Homo sapiens: one gene and its partners. The protein of the gene in region 3 purifies or fractionates together with the protein of the main gene of each other region. This does not show direct contact. Each region holds a gene or a part of one and is shown on either strand. Other genes may lie near its edges.

Region 1 (3,500 bases), on a different chromosome or scaffold from region 3:
TGGCCTGCAGACCCCTGAGCATGCACTGCATGCTTCCCACCTCTAGAGTGGCCACCCAGACAGCGACATAGACACACCAAGAAAACCCACAGGCAAGCCCAGAGGCACCTGTTCTACTAGGGCTTTGTGAGCCTCTGTGATTTGAGTCACGAGCTTCTTGTGGTGATTTCATTTAGCTAACATCCAACACAGTGCATTTAGAGACTCTTTCTCTTGGACATTATATGGAGGCGTGGTCATGGTTTGCTAAGATAAATGTCACCAAACACCCCTCAATAAAATCAAATAACAGCTCATCAAGTCCTTACATTTTAAAAAAATGGACATCTTATAAATAGCAAATATTGGATGACAATAAAGCACAGGAAAAAGCTCATAAGCCCATATCAGCAGTCATCATTCAGTTGTTCCTTAACTACTGACTGTGCACCTGTTCTGTACCAGCACCGCATCCTAGATACAGGGATACCACACAAAATAAGATGACAAGGCACCTGACCCTGTGGAGCTGAGCCACTAGCAGGAGAGATAGTCACTAAACGAATATCTCTATCCTGTGGTTTCTGGGAATGACAATCACATAAAAGGATAGAAAGAGATGGAGGAAAGCTAATTTAGACAACTCAGGATCAGAGTGGGGAGGTGGTTGCATCCCTCAAAATTCAGAGTAGCTGGAGTGCAAGCCTTGTATTAGCTGAGCCTGAATCCTGGCCCTGCCGCTGTCCATGGTGTCCTCAGGCAAATGGCTCAACTCCTCTGACCACCGGCTTCAAGTGCAGAACAGGGGATCAGAGTCCCATCTCTCAGGGTTGTTGCTATGGACTGAATTGTGTTGCCCCCAGTTCACTCATTAGGAGCTAATTAAGGTTAAAGGAGGCCATAAGGGGGGAATCCTAATCTGATAGAATTGGTGGTTTTATAAAAAGAAGAGATGTCTCTGTCTCTGTCTCTCCCCCTCTCTGCCATGTGAGGACAAGCAAGAAGGCTGCTGTCCACAACCCAGGAAGAGAGCCCTTACCGGAAAGTGATTGGTGGATACTTTGATCATGAAATTCTGGCCTCCAGAACGGTGAGAAAATCAATGTCTGTTATTTAGGCCATCTGGTCTCGGGTACTTTGTTATGGCAGCTGGGCTGGCTAAGGCAGTTGTTGAGAGGAACGGACAAGGTAGTTGGGGTAAAGCACACAGCAAGGCCACAGCTCACTGAGCGCAATGTCGGTCTCGTTCCCCTTCAATCGTTATTCTCTGTCTGGAGGATTTTCATGATGGCTTTTCTCCAAGAAGCTCCCCAAGGACTTTGTAAATATGGGGATATTTCTGACAGTAAAAATCCTTACAGTTCTTAACATTGACAATGATCAGGAACAGCAAGACATGAAAATGAGAAGGTGGCTAGAAAAGAGAGGACCCACAGAAGAAACCATCAACCACACAACACACACACAGGAGGAATCCTGACGCAGGAGGACAATAGAACAGCAGGGGACCCCAAGACTGAACTTTGCATCTCATGTATTGAGATCATTCCCCAATATGGTTTGGCTGTGTCCCCACCCAAATCTCATCTTGAATTATAGCCCCCATAATCCACATGTGTCATGGGAGGGACATGGTGGGAGGTAATTGAATCATGGGGTGGGTCTTTCCCATGCTGTTCTGGTGATAGTGAATAAGTCTCACGAGATCTGATGGTTTTATAAAGGGGAGTTCCCCTGCACAAGCTCTCTTGCCTGCTACCAAGTAAGACGTGACTTTGCTCCTCATTCACCTTCCACCGAGATTGTTAGGCCTCCCTAACCATGTGGAACTGTGAGTCCATTAAACCTCTTTCCTTTATAAATTACCCAGCCTCAGGTATGTCTTTATTAATAGCATGAGAACAGACAAATACATTCCCTAAGCCTCTATTTTCCTCTGAGACAGGCTTACCCCAAATAGCCCATCTTTGCAGGCCTTGAATAGCAATACTGTTATGTATTATATTAACATGTATTTTACTGAAGGTCTCTGGTTTTTGTCTCTCTGAACATAGGCAGGCATTGCTGAAACTTGCAGATGGCATTCCAAAATGTGTTCTATCTTAAGATAAGCAGAGAGGGTGGTGAGGAAAAATTGTACATACCTTCCCCTCAATGAAGAGGTCCCCGCGGTGTGGCCGGCCTTGGTATAAGCCTTCTGGCTCTGCTAATTCATGAGGGCTGAGTCTGATTGATCCTCATGGGGAAGACTAACAAGGGAATCCTTGACAACTATTAGGAATAACACTCATGACCCAGAAAGTGGCTCTGTCTTCATGGGGCATGATCTGTCTTGTTTACTAAGTGACCTTCTGGCTCATTTTTCTTCCAGTCAGGGCTGGAATTCAATAATCCTAGTTCCTTCCCGAATTTTAGAGCTGGGAAATGCATTCCTCGGGTTTCTACTTTTCAAAAGCGAAAAATATCTGTGGAGCTCAACTCCTAAATAGTGTGACTTTGTCTGTTTATGTGGTTCTCTTGCTGACTGCCTGGTTACAACTGTGCCTGAACTCAGGCCTCTGTGTTTCTGAATCTTAGAAGTGGTGGTTGGCATGTTAAACTTGAAGTCATCGTCCTTTAGTTATCTGAGTGCTATAATTGAACAGCACATTTATTAACAAGACTTTAGTAAATCCATCAGCATTCTAGGAAGCTTTGATTCATTGACCTACCTCTAATGTAAGCAAAGGCTGCCAGAGAGTTGCTAACAAGAATTCCATCTTTCCTCAGAACCTTCGATCCGCTTGGGTCGAAGTTTATACCTGTTTCATGAAAAATGCAAGACCAATTAATCACAGCTGTTCATAGTACGCCTATTCTAAGACACCCCTGCTGCTCCTACCCCAGGGACCGCCGGAATAATTAAAAGTCACAGAAATCAAACAAATGGGCCTCTGGCTAAATTACAGAAGATTAACCCAGGAAGAGCACTTATTAAATAGTAAGCAGTCCCCGACAATATTAAAGTACAAAAAGGATTAGAAATTGTTTTAAGTGTTGGTTCCAACTTCAGGTGCTGGTCTTCCACTCCACTGTGGAAGGGAATAAGTGGATTTTCCCATCCTAAAGACAGTGACATTCATCACACCCCTCAGAGGCTTAATAATATCTCGCTTTATTTTATTTATTTATTTATTTTTGAGATGGAGTTTCACTCTTGTTGCCCAGGCTGGAGTGCAATGGCACAATCTTGGCTCACTGCAACCATCTACCTCCTGGTTTCAAGCAATTCTCCTGCCTCAGCCTCCTGAGTAGCTGGGATTACAGGCACGTGCCACCATGCCCAGCAAATTTTTGTATTTTTATTAGAGATGGGGCTTCACCATGTTGGCCAGGTTGGTCTCGAACTCCTTACCTCAGGTGATCTGCCCGCCTCGGCCTCCCAAAGTGTTGGGATAACAGGCGTGAGCCACTGCTCCCGGCCAATAATATTTCACTTTAAGCATGGATTTGATGTCTGCTGTGTGGCCAGAGATAAAACA
Region 2 (4,288 bases), on a different chromosome or scaffold from region 3:
GCCGAGATCGCACCATTGCACTCCAGTCTGAGTGACAAGAGTGAAACTCAGTCTCAAAAAAAAAAAAGAAAGAAAAGAAAAGCAACCAGTGGGAAAGGGCAGGGAGGCTGGTGAAGGCACCAAGAGATATAAGCCACTAGCAGGAGCACAGATAAAGAGGTCTCACTGGCCAAAGGGAGAGGAGGATGTTAGTCCTGGGAAATCTCAAAGTTCCCTGATTCAAGCCTCACTCAGGTTCACCCTGACCCAGGTGCTAACACCCTCCCACCAGGTTCCCTTCCTGACTACCCACAGCCATAATGAGCCTGCCTCCTTGCCTGCCCCTGGCCAAATTCTCAGTATATCCCACCCTCCCCAAGGAAAAATCCCCCCTCAGCAAATAAACCTACTCAGAGCTAGGTACACTCACAGAATGGTTCAGGAAGAAAGACGCCGGCCATTTTCTGGGTGGCCCCATTCTCTGAGGAAGTGAGAGACAGGGACTCCAGAACAGGCCTCTGAAGAAGGCAAGGGGAGGGCACCCTTCCAGTGCCTCCCACTTTGGAGATGCCTCCAAAGAGAAACTGAGTCTACCCTGGGCCTTGGCCCTCCAAGCGGGGTAAGTGCCTATATTTTAATAAACATTTTATAAGCCCTGCTAGGCTGGCTATGTGTGGATGGTGAGGCACATGTTCCTGCTAAGCCAGGACCCCAAAGCATCCTGGACGCAGGAGCTGCCCACACCGTTAACAAGAGCTATCATTCACTGTGGGGTCACCATTTGCCAGACACTGAGCCAAGCGCTTTCCACACCAACTTATCTAATCCCCAAACAACCCTGGGAGGTAGGGACTTTTATTATCTTCATCTTTCAGACAAAGAAACTGAGGCTCAGAAAGTTATGTGACTCAATAAAAGTCACACAAACAGCAAGAGGCACAGCCAGGCACGAACGTGGGCTTTCTGACTTTTATCCACTGTGCTCCACACCCTATAAACCTAAAAACTTTCAGACACATCTCATTCCCCAGGATTCCCCCACTGTTTAGGGTACAGAATCTAGGGGTCATGGAATCCACAGCACTGGTTAAAATCCCTCAGACTCCTTTCAGACAAAGGAAACAGATGGAATAAAGGGGATGGGAGGAGAAATATAGAAATCTGTCCAAGGCCAGATTCCAGCCAAGATCCTACACTAAAAAATGGCAAGCCTTAGGCAAATCTCATCTGCCTTCAAGTTGGCTTCTCCCTCCACTGTAGGGCTAAGCCACCTGCTTTATATAGTCCACAAAGCCCTTCTGTGAATCAGTCTTTTACAAAGGGAGATATGTACAGCAGTAACTATTGACTAAGACAGAAGGCAGCAAGTTCATTATGAGAAGGACAGACAGAAATGCAGACGGGTCTGGAAAGCGGACCCCTATGGAACACATGGAACTTGAGGTAGCCCTTGACTTCTGGGGGCATTTTACCCAATGGAGCTTGGCGGAGCGTTGATGAAGGAATGGAGTGAGCACACGCACAGAGGCAGGAGCACATTTTAAAACTGAGTTTCCACTGTGCCAGACCCTAGGTGGGTTAGGAGGTGGCAAAGGTAATGGGAGACATGGCTGCTGTGCTGTTCAGAGCTTTGGGAGCCTGCTGAGAAGTCTGGACTGTTCTGGGCAGACGAAGGGCAGCGTCAGGTCTGAGAAAAAAGGAATGCTCCGAGGTGAAGGCAGGGCCTCAAGGCAAATCTGGAGAGTATAAGAGACTAAAGGGAGCGATGGTAACACAGTATCGCACTCAGAGGTTACAGCAAACACAGGGACACAAACTGGAGGAGGACCGACCTGGAACTGCCTGACTTTGGCCAATGAGGCGGCACGATGGAGGGGCACAGAAGAGGACGGTTGCCAAAGATGACCAAGGTTTGGGGGCCGAGAAGTGGAGGCGGAGGAGGAGAGCAGTTTCACTAATACAGCTGGAGAAGTGAGGAGGCAGGGCTTGCTTGAAGGAAGCGCTGGACGCACAGCCTGCAGCGCAGGACAGAGAAGAGACAAAGAACTGGAAAGTGATAAAGTCGTGGGAGGAGGTGAGACTGGAGGGAGAGACGAAGAGGAGCGAGAACTAGCAGAGTCCATGAAGGCACTTTTTCAAAGTTAGGTGGTCACCAAAAAACAGGTAATCAATCCTGTCACCAGCCGCGGGGACAGCGAGGCCTTGGGCTTGGAGGGGGAGGATGCCGACGATGCCGACCGCGCATCAGATCTCGCCGGGAGGAGGGCGCGGGCGCTCCACTTGTTGCAAAGAACGCCGGGTTCCTCTGGGCCATTGGGCTGCCGCTCCGGCGGGGAGCGCGGAAGGCTGGGCCTCAGGTAGCTTCAATCATTCACCTGCTGGTTACGGGTCGCGGCGCCGGGGACCCTACTCCGGACCTCGGCCATGCAACCCGCAGCATACGGAGAACGCTGGGCGCCCGCTCCGCTGCCCCGCTTCCTTCCTGCCCCTGGGCCGCTCCTCTGCACCCCGGGAGCCCTCCCCTGACGCACCCGTCGGTCCCTCGGAAGAGCCCTCTGCCGCGCAGCCCCGACACCCCCCGCCCCGCATCCGCCCAGGCCCCCGGGACCCTGCTCCTCCGCCTCAAACTTCCCTTCCGTCTCTCACAACCTCGTACCTCCTGGTAGGATGTGGAGCGCTCCTGCCGGATCATGGCACTGACCAGAGCTTCGGCACACCTGAGACCGCCCCAGCCCGCGGCGCACGGACGCAGCACTGCGGCCGCTGCACCTGGACCTACCGGCTCCGCGAGGCGAAACCGGTCCGGAGGGGCGTCCCAGAGACCAGGCGTGGCGATACTCGGCGCATGCGCCTGGCCGCTGCCGCCCAGGAGTCGCGAAAGTGTTGATGGGAAATGTAGTTCTGGGCGGGGGCGCCCCTCACACCAGCTCTCACCCCTGTGGCGGAGGCCTGCATGTGACCCTGGGCCAGCTAAGCTGGTCCTTAGACGCGTGCCTCTGCGTCTCTCACTTCCTCTCTTTGTTGGAGGGGGAGGGACGGAGAAGAGGAGTGGAAAGTGGAACAAAGTCAGATGAGTAGGAGCCCCTAATCTATAATTGCAAGAGGAAGCTTGGCCTGGCGGTTTAAAACGGTAATAAATGTCTGGAGAGCACTTTGTATGTTAGTTACAAAGCGCTCTCACTCACATTATGCCGTTGATTCTGCAAGGAACCCTGTAAGAAGGACATTTTTCTCCCTAATTTACAAATGAGGAAACTGAGGTACTTTGTTTCAGAAAGGATGCGGGTGGAGCGGTAATCAAATGAAGATTATTTCATCCAGGGGTAGACTGCGGAGCCCATGTTCTCTCCATTATTCCAGGGGCAGGAGTACCCCTAGGTTCTTGTCCTGGCTCTGACCCTCCCCTTTAGGTCTTGCAATGCTCTGAGCCCTCCTCTCCTCGCCTTAGAATGCAACTGCTAAACCCTGCCCTGCCTGACAAGGCCTATGAAAGCAGAAAGGAAGGATCGTGCAGAGAAAGCCTAAAGCCGCTGTTCAGCCACAGAAGAAGCCTCAAGCGCTAGATGTGGCGTCAAATCTGGTGTTGGCCCTGTGGCAGGGTGGACCTGAAGACCACATCTTCCTCTCCTCCCACTGCCTGAAACAGCTGTTGTGTGAGGGCCCTCGGCTCCTCAGTGGTGAAGCAGATAGAGGCTGCTTGTTGTGCCTTGGTGAATGCTGCTCTGTGTCCCTTGCAGCTGCAGCTTGGTAACCCCTCCACTCAGGCCACTGGGAGCCTCTTCTCTCCTCAGTGATAAGCAGAATAGTGCCAGCCACATCAAAGAACCCTGGACCTCCTGGAGCATTAGCAATGGGAGGTCCCCATCACCTCTCCTGACCACTCACCCCTATCCTAGGCCCTCTGCTCTTAAATCTGTTATATGGGACAATATATATAGTGCCTAACACATTGTAGGCACTCGACAAATGTTTGTTAAATTTATGAATGGAACACTGATTCCAGCCATTTCATTTAACAGTTGCTTACCAAAACAAATTAACAATAGCAGACCACTAATTAAATTCCTTACTGTGTTAATACAATGGTACTTGATAGAACAAGTTCACACCATCATAGAATATTAGAGCTGGAAGGAACCAGAGAATTCTATTCCAACCCTGTCATTCCTCTCTAGTCTTTGTTGGTGTGACCAAACTGGAAAATTATGGGCTCCCACATTTGAAGGAGATACTGGCTAATAAAATATAAAATATGGCTTAACAAATACAATGTGCTGGGCACTGGGATACAGAAATGGATAAGATACCC
Region 3 (3,500 bases):
AGTCTCAGCTACTCGGGAGGCTGGGTGGAGGATCCCTTGAGCTCAGGCGTGTGAGGCTACAATCAGCTATGACTGAACCACTGCACTCCAGCCTGGGTGACACAGCAAAACCTAGTCTCTAAAAAAACTAAATAAATAAAAAATAAAAACCACTAACTAAGAATATTTATATAAAAACATCACAATTGCTCAAAATATTTGCAACCCCTCTCTATCAGACCCATCCTCAGAGGTCCCCAACCCCCACCACCACCACTTAGTGCCCTCACTGTGGGGGGACGTACATTTCCCACCCCATTCGTTGTATGATTTGCTTTGGCCAAGAAGATGTGAGAGGAAGCGGTTCAGTCTACGATGGAGCAGAAGATTTTAAGAGCCAGTGCATGGTCCACCATTGTGTTTTCCTGCTGTGAGAGCAGAATATGTGAGATAATAGTTTCTCCTTCTAGTACGAAAACAGCATGGAGTACAGCCACTATCAACTCATATAACTCACAAAATATGTAAAAAAATAGACCTTTGTTGTAAGTCATAGATTTGGGGATTATTTGTTATCACAGCTTAACTCAGCAAAAGCTTACTAATCATTTTAACAATGTCATTGCTTGGAGGTAGGCAGCTGCAGTGCATTCAGAAAAGCACTGGCCCTGAAATCGGAAAACCTAAATTCCACTTCCATCTGGCTGCGCGACCCAGGTAACTCATGACCACATGACTCCCATTTCCACAGCTGGTGGTGTGGGTGATAGCATGTCCTCTACCACTTATTAGCTATGCAGCTCTGGCCAAGGAATTTAATCTGTCTGTGTCTTAATTTCTTCATCTGCAAAATCGGAATAAAACTATACACCTCACAGGGTTGTTCTGAAAATTCACAAGTTAAAACATATAAAGTTTGTAGAGGAGGGTCTGGCACATAGTAAACACTCAATACATGTTTATTATGTTATTGTCCTATTGCTATTACTATTGCACCTTTTTCATAGGTTTTAGAGGCCTAAAGGTGTTTGGGGAAGTGCTCTGTAAACTATAAAGTGCTCTGTAGATATATATGGTTATAAAGAACTTTCCACATCTCATTTGCAACCCTTTGGTAGTTATGAGGAACTCGGTAACAGCAGGGTTTTTGTCAGGTTTACTGTGGTATCCCAGGCCTTCAAATATGAGCTGGCACGTAGTAGGCATGTAATTATTTGTTGAATGAATGAAGGAAAATCGTGGTCTCCTTTGTAATCCACTCAATGCAGATGCTATTTTAAAATTACATTGTTACTGACTGAATCTCCGCCAGTTCCATAAATCAAAGCTTCATATACGCAAGCTTATTTCAGGTACTGAGTATATTTAACCATCTACTTAAATTACCCAACTTACTAGATCTATGTTAAACAAAAATACCACATGTCATCACTTTTCAGCAGAGATCAGAATAATTGGTACTACACATTAGAAGAATCACCTCAAATTAAAGAATGTACAATAATGCCTTTGATCACTGTACAATAGAGTACATGTCAACATTTTTTATACTCTGAATGATGAAAATGGTCTAAGAATTTCCATTTTTTTTCTTTGACAATAAGGCTAAGACTATTGATATACTTTTTTAGTGACACTTTATTTTTATTTAAAATTTTTTTTATTATACTGTAAGTTCTGGGATGTATGTGCAGAACGTGCAGGTTTGTTACACAGGTATGCGTGTGCCGTGGTGGTTTGCTGCACCCAGGCACTTTATATTTTAAAAGCAAATTTTAACTGAAATATAGTGAATAAAATAATGAAATGTATTTCATATATGCTTGCTTAAAAGCCTAAAGGCAATTATAAGTGATGTATTTCAGATCAACTTTCAAAACTGCATATTTGAAGTCCAAATTATCTGAAAATCCCCCATTAAATAAAGTTAAATAATATTTTCTATGTCACTGACAAACAGCAATGGCACTATTGTACTTCATGGCTTAGGAAACACAGAAGAGTTTGCGTGGGGAGCTTTGCAGGGAAAGGGTGAGGGTGCATTTGCTAGAGTTTGGGAAGTTATTTTTAAGACTTCTCACCAATGTTCACAGTTCTTTATTTTTCCCAATAAAATTTTGTTAAGTATTGAAAATAATTCTGCTTTTACTCATATCACAGAATTATAAAATCCTAGAATTAGGTATAATCTGAGAGGTTGCCTGAGCCATCCTTGGTCCAGTTGCTACTGCGATTTACTTATTTGTCATTTCAGTAAACACTGACTGAGCATCCACCCGCAGGTACTTGCCAGAGATATAACATGGACAGAAAACAAAGTCACTGGCCTGAAAAATCTTAAAATCTAGTAAATTAAAGCTGTCCTTGCCTAACAACACTTTGTGACTAGAAACTAACAGCGCAGCTTTGTGAAGCTGCTCGTTCCATTTTTGGATGGATGAGGTCAAGGGTTAAAGTGCTTCCTTCTAAGGCGGGTGAGTTCTGCCTTAGCCATGGCCCCTTTCAATGGTCTGAGGGCCACTCTATGGAACCATCATCTGTGTAATGCTTCCAGTAGATCACATCTCAAATAATCAGACATTTATCATGGCTCTCTCTCCAGTCTTCTCTTCGTAAGACAACCAACCCCCAGTTCCGACTGCGCTCTTCATAGGGTTTTTCTTCCAAACTCCTCACCATTCTGGTATCCACCTCTATATGTCAATTTCTTGCTGCAGCACCTCAGGACTGATCAGCACACAGAGAAACACATTGCCTTCCCTTTCCAAAATCACATCTAACTCGTTTCTCTTTGCTCATTAGATTCTAGCTCGACTCATATTTTTCTGTCCTTCAAAAACACCATTTCTGGTGTTCTTCGCATCTTTACATTTGCCCATCTCTGCGTCCTCCCACAGCTGCCCACACGGCTGGTTCCGTCTCATCCTGAGAGCTTCGATGTGGGCATCGCCTCCGCAGAGAGGCATCCCTCGTGATCCACCTCAATCAACTTCCCCTCCACTCCCAGTCACTACCTCATCTCTCGTTTTAGTCTCAGTTTAACAGCGATGATTATCGGAACTTATCTTCTTTGTTTAGTTATTTACTGGCGGCTTCCTCCCTAGAAAGTGAGTTCATCCCTGCACTGCTGTCGTCTGCAATAATGCAAGGCAAAGCGAAGGACGAGAGGGAGGGAACGCCCCCGCCCTGGAACCTACATGGCATGATTCATATCTCTCTATTTCTTATGAATACAGTCAAGACGGCACAAGCTTTTCTGGCAGACATAGCCCATTTGTTTAAGGTCAATAAAACCGTGTCTTTGTCACATACGGACGAGACACATTCTTACGTGATGGGATCGTGCTGCAGAATTTTAGAAGGAGGGCTGGTTTGCTGGATTCAAACTACTACTCCGGCTCTATTTTTAGTCTCTTATCCAACACCACCTCCTTCCTGTCAACAATGGCTTTGATACCCACACCATCTATATCCTAGAAAAGGAAGACATTTCTACCTCCTGTGCTCTTTCAGAGCGGGGC
Region 4 (3,500 bases), about 84 Mb from region 3:
ACTGGCGTTTTTGGATTAATAAAAAATTCCATGAGGGATAAAATAGGCCACCTTTTTTTTCTCGTAAGCAAAGAACACTAGCTTCATGTGCTGGTGAAATGGTCACCGCTCTACACCACCCACGCCCAGCTCTCCCACACATCCCCTCCAGGGAGCAACGGGAAGGAGAGGCCACATCTTCCCAAGAAAAACAAGCTAAAGCTTCTCAAACTCAGCTGGGCATCACAATGACCTGCAGGAAGTTTTGATTTTTTTCTTAACAGAAATTCCAGGACCCCATCCTGGATGGACCTACTGAACCAGATCTCCCAGTGGGAAGACTGAAATTTCCTTACTAATCAGGCTGCCACACTACATGCATAAAGGGGTGAAATATCAACTAATCCTACAGAAGTGACCCCTAGTTAGTGAGAGGGACTTCCCATGCATGGAGAGATTCCAAGAGATAAAAACCCACACGAGGAGTAATTTTTTTAAAAATGTACTTTGGCCATCAAGATTCAAAGACATCTAAAGGCTAGAATACTGGTTCTTTTCTTTCTTAAGTGGTGGGACCCCTTTTTTCAAGCAAAATCTTTCTTAGTATCCCAAAATATCAAACTAATAACCAAGCTTTTCTGGAGGAAAGAGAGGTACTGCTCAGTCCACACCCCACCAGCACAGACCCACCCACCCACATACGCCTCAAGGAGGCCTAGGATTGCTGGTAGCAGGTTTGAAATCCAATGGGCCAGAATAAGACATTTAAATGGGAGAAATAAACAGAACTAAATCTAAATTCAAATAATTAACTGGAGGGTTAGGGCTTCTGATTAGCATATAGCTTAGGGGGATGGTTTAATAGAGTTCACTTGAAAAAGTGAAGGTTTTATTTCACTAAAAAGTCAATCCAAGCCAAAGTGTTCGTTGGCTGCCAGGGAAAGCAAGTGCAGTTTAGCCTGGGTTAATAACTAGTATTTGTATTTAGAGATTTACCATTTATGAAGCACGTTGATATGCATGATCTCACATAATACTGGATAACAACTTTGCAGAAAATTATTTTCCTGGTTTTTTTAGATGAGCAACTGAGGAACTAATCTGTGAAAGTAACTTACTCAAAGTCAATTCCAGACAGTAGCAGAGGCTTCTGCCACCAGGCACAGCACAGCCTAGGGACTGAAGGGAGAGTTCAAGAGCCTGCTGCTCTTCGGATGGTTAGAAAAGCCTGTGAACAACGTGTTTCATTCTGGTTGCTGCATTAATAGAGGTGTGTCCAAATGGGACCCTAGGCAGAGCACCGTGACCAGGGCAAAGAACAATCTGGAAACAGTATATGTAGACCTAACACTCTAAAACCGAACCCTGACATGCTCTTCAACATCTCAAAAGTTACTCCACATCTCTGTACTCCAATTTCTTCATCTGTCACAAAGATATAATATGTTTGGAAGACTCTTTGAGATGCTTACAAGAAAAACATCATTAGTGTAAACACATGGAGGAACTAGGAGCTTTTAAAGGTGGAAAACAGAATGTTTAGGAATGACATAATGGCTATTTTTAAATAATGAAGGACCATGGGGAAGGAAGATAAGTCTTATTTTACATCATTCAAGAGTAGCCGAGGCTCTTCGCCTTCTCCTTCCTGAAAATTCAAAGCCATTAGGTAGGTCCAATCTGGTAGGCTTCCTACGTTTACAAAAACGTAGGAAGAGGGATGCTGTGGAAGCCCAGAGCAGGGTATCTCAGGGAGAAAGGTATCCATATGGGGATGGGGGTGGTGGCACAGGATGCTAGAGCACTAACAGCTGAGGAGGGCAGCCCCAGGAGGAAAGGTGGTGGCAGCTGCAGAAGATTGGTTACATATGGGGAGATTTACCAAATAAGTAAACTGTTAAGAATAATGCGAACCAAGAATCTCACTGTCAAATAAAGCAGTTATAAAATATGGAGAGGAAAAACTAAACCCTGTGGTATCAGACAGGAATTTAAGGTATGACTGTAAACTCATGGTTTTAAAAGTACATAGATACAGAATTACAGATGTACATGTGTGTCTGTATATACACAGAGTAGCAACACCCTAATAGCAATGAGCACACCAAGCAACCAGATCTTGGCTTCTAAATTCCATTCTCCATTCAATAGCTCCTTGGAGAAATGTCTGATACAAAAGATGACACAGGTAAATCACAAAATGAGTTTGGAACATCTTATTCTGCCAGAGAGCAAGATGGTGCTCAAAGACTGATGGGAGTTAAAAGAGCACAGGAGCCAATGTGAAAAGACTGCACTGGCCAAACCTAGGGCCATTTTAAATAAAGTAATGACAGTAACATTAAACCACACTGAAAAAAGGAAGACACTAAGTTCTTACTGATATAAATAAATAACAGATTGAAAATTTGATGAGGAATAGGCTATTTACATGGTTTCAATGTAATTTGCCATAAAACATTTATAAATTACAAATGAGAAAAGAGTAACTATATGGTAGAGAAGCCTGGCAGACAACACCTTGATCAAGTGACCATCATCAGTAATGGGACAAACAGAAATCAATGCCACCCTGATAGGGTACAATGAGAACGCAGCACCATTTCTGTACTATTCCTACCAAAGATGCACAGCCTGAATCTAAGCTTGTGAAAATGGCACAAACACAAACTGAGGGACATTCTGCAAAATAACTGGCTTATAATTGTCAAAAGTATCAAGAGCATGATAGTGAAGGACTGAAAGAGACTAAAAACATGTAACTAAATACAAAGTGTGGTTCTGACCTGAATTCTTTTGCTTTAAAACATTATGGGAGCAACTGGGAAACTTGGATGAAATCTAAGGATTAAATGGTGTTAATGTATCATTGGTAATTTCCTGGCTTTCATGGTTGTACTGTGGTGATCTAGGAGAATAGTCCAGTTTACAGAAAATACATACTCAACTGTTTGTGTGATAGCCAACATGCTGGCAACTTTGTCTCAAACAGGATAAAAACAGGTTCTCTATACTACTTGCAATTTTCCTATTGGTTTAATGTTTCCAAATAAAAATTTTAAATGAACAGTAAATTAGGAGGATGGAAATGATGGGGAGACAGATAACATCTAGTTTGAACAGATGAAACTCTACAATTAAAGTGGTCCAAAAACAGATCCATGCTTAGAAAGGTAGGCACGATACAATGGAGAATGCTTCACTGACTAGGAAGTTAGAGGAGATGATTCCTACGTACTTTCTGATGATTTTGTAATTCTTTCCTTCAACATACTTTTTTTTTTTTTTTTTTTTTTTTTTGAGACAGGGTCTTGTTCTGTCACCCTGGAGTGCAGTTGCAGCCTCAACCTCCCAGGCTCAAGTGATCCTCCCACCTCAGCCTCCCAAGTGGCTGGGACTACAGGCACGCATCACCACACCCAGCTAATTTTTAATTTTTAATTTTTTTTTGTAGAGATAGGGTCTCACTATGTTACCCAGGCTGGTCTCAAACTCTTGGGCACAAGCCATCCTCCAGCCTC

The links. The genes of interacting proteins can lie anywhere in the genome.
Region 1: the proteins of TENM3 (region 3) and EVA1C purify together in Homo sapiens (co-immunoprecipitation; one large-scale study listed by IntAct). This does not show direct contact.
Region 2: the proteins of TENM3 (region 3) and PACC1 purify together in Homo sapiens (co-immunoprecipitation; one large-scale study listed by IntAct). This does not show direct contact.
Region 4: the proteins of TENM3 (region 3) and TSPAN5 purify together in Homo sapiens (co-immunoprecipitation; one large-scale study listed by IntAct). This does not show direct contact.

What each region holds. Positions count from the first base shown.
Region 1 is NC_000021.9:32,503,206-32,506,705, reverse strand, and holds part of EVA1C (protein eva-1 homolog C isoform 1 precursor), read right to left. Parts: intron 2,781-3,500; coding exon 2,691-2,780; exon of another isoform or gene 2,603-2,690; intron 1-2,602. UniProt on the Homo sapiens protein: Binds heparin.
Region 2 is NC_000001.11:212,412,087-212,416,374, forward strand, and holds the start of PACC1 (proton-activated chloride channel), read right to left. Parts: upstream 2,801-4,288; 5' UTR 2,672-2,800; coding exon 2,636-2,671; intron 1,995-2,635; coding exon of another isoform or gene 1,812-1,994; intron 1-1,811. UniProt on the Homo sapiens protein: Chloride channel gated by pH that facilitates the entry of chloride ions into cells upon exposure to extracellular acidic pH. Involved in acidosis-induced cell death by mediating chloride influx and subsequent cell swelling.
Region 3 is NC_000004.12:182,246,402-182,249,901, reverse strand, and holds part of TENM3 (teneurin-3), read right to left. Parts: intron 1-3,500.
Region 4 is NC_000004.12:98,648,612-98,652,111, forward strand, and holds part of TSPAN5 (tetraspanin-5), read right to left. Parts: intron 1-3,500. UniProt on the Homo sapiens protein: Part of TspanC8 subgroup, composed of 6 members that interact with the transmembrane metalloprotease ADAM10.